Linked DNA regions of Homo sapiens: region 2 is linked to region 1. A link means that fine-mapping ties the variant in region 1 to the expression of a gene that starts in the linked region. Tissue or cell type: whole blood. Region 1 holds a variant in brackets; the other region holds the start of a gene. All regions are shown on one strand. Distances are from middle to middle.

Evidence for each region. PIP is the estimated chance that this variant, and not a neighbour inherited with it, causes the effect.
Region 2: it holds the start of DCST2, and the variant in region 1 is fine-mapped to the expression of DCST2 in whole blood (TOPMed, PIP 0.96).

Annotation. Positions count from the first base shown.
Region 1 is chr1:155,059,747-155,062,246 of GRCh38, forward strand. ADAM15 (ADAM metallopeptidase domain 15) reads left to right here. Exons shown (of 23, transcript NM_207197.3): 17 at 156-228; 18 at 459-597; 19 at 1,017-1,086; 20 at 1,669-1,743; 21 at 2,158-2,229; 22 at 2,499-2,500. The region is part of intron 1 of DCST1-AS1 (DCST1 antisense RNA 1); the gene reads right to left. ADAM15-EFNA4 (ADAM15-EFNA4 readthrough) reads left to right here. Exons shown (of 26, transcript NR_176418.1): 17 at 156-228; 18 at 459-597; 19 at 1,017-1,086; 20 at 2,499-2,500. Among named protein-coding and RNA genes, the nearest start is that of EFNA4, 2.7 kb to the right of the region's middle. The variant A/G (reference allele first, on the strand shown) is at 1,350.
Region 2 is chr1:155,032,286-155,034,785 of GRCh38, forward strand. It overlaps DCST2 (DC-STAMP domain containing 2), which reads right to left and starts at 1,496. Exons shown (of 15, transcript NM_144622.3): 1 at 1,149-1,496; 2 at 809-979; 3 at 382-483. The coding sequence starts at 1,416. It overlaps DCST1 (DC-STAMP domain containing 1), which reads left to right and starts at 1,539. Exons shown (of 17, transcript NM_152494.4): 1 at 1,539-1,569; 2 at 1,687-1,812; 3 at 2,150-2,275; 4 at 2,368-2,442. The coding sequence starts at 1,752.

The DNA.
Region 1 (2,500 bases):
TGCTCTGGTATGGATAAAGACCCTCCCTCCGGGCTGTCTCTACACACATACCCAGCACAACCCCCAGTTGTAGAAATCTGAGATCTTGAAAAGCTAGAGACAAGGAAATAGTTCCAGAGTGCAGAGCTCCTCATTGCTCGCCTTGTACCTCCTAGGTCTGTGACAGCAACAGGCACTGCTACTGTGAGGAGGGCTGGGCACCCCCTGACTGCACCACTCAGCTCAAAGGTAGCATGGGGGTGGGGGACAGGGGCAGCTGGGAGGGCAAAGCGTCTCATGCTTTATCTTGCCCCCTCGGCCCTCTCTTTCTGACCCCCCTTTGCTGCTGGTTCCCTGAGTCTGTGCCCCTTGAACCCTTCACTCTCCCTGATCACTTGACTTCACTCCCTGCCCCCTGCGCCTTCATGGATCTAGAGTTCTTAGCCCCGTCCTCCCTTAAACCTGACTTCCGCCCACAGCAACCAGCTCCCTGACCACAGGGCTGCTCCTCAGCCTCCTGGTCTTATTGGTCCTGGTGATGCTTGGTGCCAGCTACTGGTACCGTGCCCGCCTGCACCAGCGACTCTGCCAGCTCAAGGGACCCACCTGCCAGTACAGGTATGAGCATCACCTCCCTGCTACCACTTCCTTCAACTGGGGACAGTGCTGAAGGCTGCCTCACCTCTGCAGCCCCTGCCACCTGGTTCTGAGCCCCAGGCCCCTTGGACCTTAAAGTTGCTGACTGCCATACCCCACACCTCCCTTCCCTATATGTGCCCACAGCTTTTTACCTCACAGCTGTGCCCCTGTGGGGTGGCTGGATTGCTAGGGCCATTTCTCCCCAGGAGCCCCTGTGCTGGATAAGTAGGGTCTTCCCTCAAGCTAATAAATACTGCCCCCCACCCCGGCCCTACCACAATTTTACCTAAACCACACATAAGTGCCTGCAAAGGGTTAACCCCACTCAGGGATGGCATATGGTAGAAAACAGGGTCTGAGGCTGGGCCCTCTCCCTTCTTGCCTTTCCTCATGCATAGGGCAGCCCAATCTGGTCCCTCTGAACGGCCAGGACCTCCGCAGAGGGCCCTGCTGGCACGAGGCACTAAGGTGAGTCCTGGATGCCAGAGGAAGGGGACTCCACCTTGGCCGGGCATCCAGCTTGGGCCCTGGGGGGTGCGCATTAAAGGCTCCAGACTCAGAGAAAGGCTAGCACTGCCCAAGAGTCAGTCGAAGGAGTCAGGGCCAGCCCTGCCCTCCCCTCCCCTGGCTACAGGCAGGGAAGCTGAGTCCAGAAGAGTGGGGAGGGCAGCCAGCTGGAGCAGGAGCTGCTGGGCTCCGTCCGCTGGCCAAGAGGTGGCTTTGAGAGGTGG[A/G]TCTATCCATGCCCCCAGCAGTGACCCCAGGAGGGCACAAGGGCAGTGGTGCTCAGAATGGCCTTCCGTAGGCCCAGGTCACCATGTTAGAAGGGCTGGTGAGCATCCCCACCCTGAGCCCTCTGCTTGGATGATGGGAGTGTGTGCACACCTCCTCCCCACTCGCTCCCCACCTGCATGCACCTGCATAACTGCATGCACAGCACCCACTGCCCTGGGCCCCTGCTGGCCCCCCCTGGGCACTGACCCTTCCCTGCCCACTCTGTCTCTCTGCTTCCTCTTCCCCCTCTGTGCCTATCTGCCCCTCCTGCCCTCTCAGCAGGCTAGTGCTCTCAGCTTCCCGGCCCCCCCTTCCAGGCCGCTGCCGCCTGACCCTGTGTCCAAGAGACTCCAGGTAAATCTGGGCCAGGGCCCGCCCTGAGCCAAGGCAGGTGGGAGGCTTGGTACCCAACTGCAGTTCTCATCCCTGCTCCCTGCCAGTGGTGCTCTTCATTAGGTGATCGGGGTGCCCCTCAGCCTTCAGACACTCTGAGCCCCAGAAGCAGCAAAGGGTGAGCCTCCTGCCTTGGTTTCTACCACCATCTGGTGGTCAATGGCGGGACTGCAGTCGGCCAGGGACTGCGGTTGACCTACACCTTCCTCCCCTGAGACATCAGCTGGCATGCCTCCAAGCCCTCTGCGCATGCCCTCATTCTCTCCTGCCCCCTGGCTGACTTTGCATGTTGACTTGAACCCCTCTGGGGAATCTCTGTGCATGTCCACAGCCCCTGGTTATGCTCTCACAGCCACTGCCCCTCTCTCTGTTCAGGCTGAGCTGGCTGACCGACCCAATCCCCCTACCCGCCCTCTGCCCGCTGACCCGGTGGTGAGAAGCCCGAAGGTAACGGTGGGGGGAGAGAAGGGCACGGCCTCTCCCCCCACCTAGGGCTGTGGTGCTGGTAGCCATGACGGTGGTGGCCGTGGCGAGATGCCCCCTCAGTGCATGAGGGCACATATCCCGGTGGTGCCTTTAATGGTGACAGGTTTGTTTGCAGACAAGGGTGACCGCTGGTGCTGCCCCCAAGCTGGTGTTCCCCAGCACCAGTGCGTTGGGGGTGGGCAACATGACACCCCCCCACCTAAGCCGGCCTCCTGCCTTCTCTCCCTCAGTC
Region 2 (2,500 bases), 27 kb before region 1:
CTGGCCCCCCCGCTTTTTTTTTTCTTTAGAGATGGAGTCTCACACTGTCACCCAGGCTGGATTGGAGTACAGTGGCACGATCATAGCTCACTGCAGCCTCAAACCCCTGGGTTCAAGAGATCCTTCCACCATAGCCTCCCCAGTAGCTGGGACTACAGACATGTGTCATTACATCTGGCTAGTTTTATTTATTTTCTATTTTTTTATTTTTTATAGAGACAGGGTCTCGCCATGTTGCCAAGGCTGGTCTCAAACTCCTGGGCTCAAGTGATTCTCCCACCTCGGCCTCGCAAAGTGCTGGGATTACAGGCATGAGCCACCGCACCCGGCCAGGACTGGGTGCATTTTGAGTCCCCGGGATAGACATGCTAATGTGCTTACCTATGTGTTTCACACCATCCATGATTGACCGAAAGAACTTGCGGACCCGGTCAGCCACCTCTTTGGTCTTCCGGGCAATAGCTTTAATCTTGTTCAGGGCACCTGATGGGTGAGGGACAGAGGCACTTTGGAGTCTTCTCCTCTAGGGGCTGGTTCTCACCATTGCCCCTTAAGCAGGGAGTAGAGAGGAGGCCACCATTTCCAGAGGCGGGAAGCCTGGATTCTGGGGCCTGGGAGATCGTTAATCTGGGAGTGGAGGAGGCCAGAGAGCAAGGAGAGAGGGTTTAGCTGTGCCCAGAGTCCCTTCCAGGCCCAGATGCTCCGCGATTAGCACCAGCAGAGAAGGAGGCCAAAGGACTGTAGAACATGCAGGATGAGGGGGGCGAGGGGGGCCCGTGGGAGACAGTGGTAGAGGTGGGGGACTTACTGACAAGAGGTTGCTTGGCCCTCTGTAGCACTTCGGCGGTCTGGTTCAGGGCCAGCTCTGCCCCACAGGCTACAGCCTCGCTGGCCCGGGTGAAGTTGCGTAGAGTGTTGGCACAAGGCCCTTGAAGCACCAACCCAAAAGCAGCCACCAACAGTAGTGTCCGGCCCTGCCCTGGGGGCGACAGCTTTGTTAGAACCAAGACCCCAGCCCCAAACATGGCAGCAAGTCCCTTACATAAGCCTTCAGAATATTTCCCTTAACCCCTGCCTCTCCTCCAGCATCTCTTCTGCCCCAGCACCAGCCCCAGGACCTGCCCCCTAGCCCTGGGTGCCAAGCTCACTGGAGAAGGCCTGAGGCAGCAGCAGGAGGACAGTGGCTCGGACCTGGCGAGAGAATCCCATGCCCAGGCTAAGGAAGGCAGCCAAAGTGAGGGTGCCCACCAGGCAACCCCAGGGGCTGTGGCCTTCCACCAGTAGCTCCAGAAGCCCGTAGGCCGTGGCTAAAGACAAGCCCAGGGTAAAACCTCCCACGCTGCGAACCACAGCTCTCGCCATGCTAGGCTCCTCTCCCCCCAAGGGGTGCACAACATCCTTCATGACTTTGGGCATGGCTGCTGAGACCAAATGTCTGCCTGTCTCCAGGAGATGCCCGCTGACTTCTGTGCTCCTGGAATTTCTCACCGTATTCTAAGGTTCCAAAGGGCTTTCACTGCATATGTCTTGGAATCCTTGACCCAGTTCCGAGGACTGGAGAGGGGATAGGTAGGTCTCTAATCTCCTTCCCCACTTCTCGGAGCAGAAGGATTAAAAGGCCCAGAGCTCAGGCCTAGGCTTCCCATGAAGCGGAAGAGACAGGCAGCACCTCTCTTCTCTCACCAGAACCTTGTGTCCAAGGAGGTCCTTCAGGAGACCTGGGATGAGTGGTGCTTCCCCAAAACAGACTCATGGACATTAAACATCATCAGAATGGCACAAGAGGGCAAAGAAGAAAACAGCCTCATACCAGTGAGTCACTCAGCAGAGACCCAGTATCCCTTGACCTCCACTCTCATCCCATCTCTCCTCCTGGAACTCCTGCACACTATCCCCCAACTCGGTGTCCGCGCCTCCACCACCTCTCTGGTCTAGTGCCTCCCGCCTCCCAGCCCAGCCCTTGCCTTTGCTGTCCCTTACACCCATACCACTTCCTCAGGCTCCCTCATCCTCCTCCAGGGTCCCCTAAGTTCCTACTGTTTCACATGCCAGGTTTCCCCAGCCTCTATCCACCTGCAAGCCCTGAATCCTAATGAGCCCCATCCCAGGCAGAAGAGTGGGCTGTTGAGCTACCCTGTCCCCCTCTTAGCGGTGCAGAGGCTCCTGACCTGGGGGCTGCCAGTCTCCTGTAGCTGGTTCCTGTGGCGCCAGCCGGGCGAGTTTCCTGTCACTGCTCTCCTGCTGGGGGCAGGCGCTGGGGGGCTCCTGGCCATAGGTGAGTGTGGAAGCAGAAAGTTCGGGGTGGGCAGAGGCTGGACCAGGGCTAGGACCCATCTTTTGGCCTTTGGCTTGACCTTGTGCCCTTAGGTCTCTTTCAGCTCCTGGTGAACCCCATGAACATCTACGAAGAACAGAAGATTATGTTCTTGTACAGCTTGGTGGGTTAGTGCTGGGCAAAAGCCAGGAACACTCAAGCGGCCTGTGGAACACAGCGCCGTCC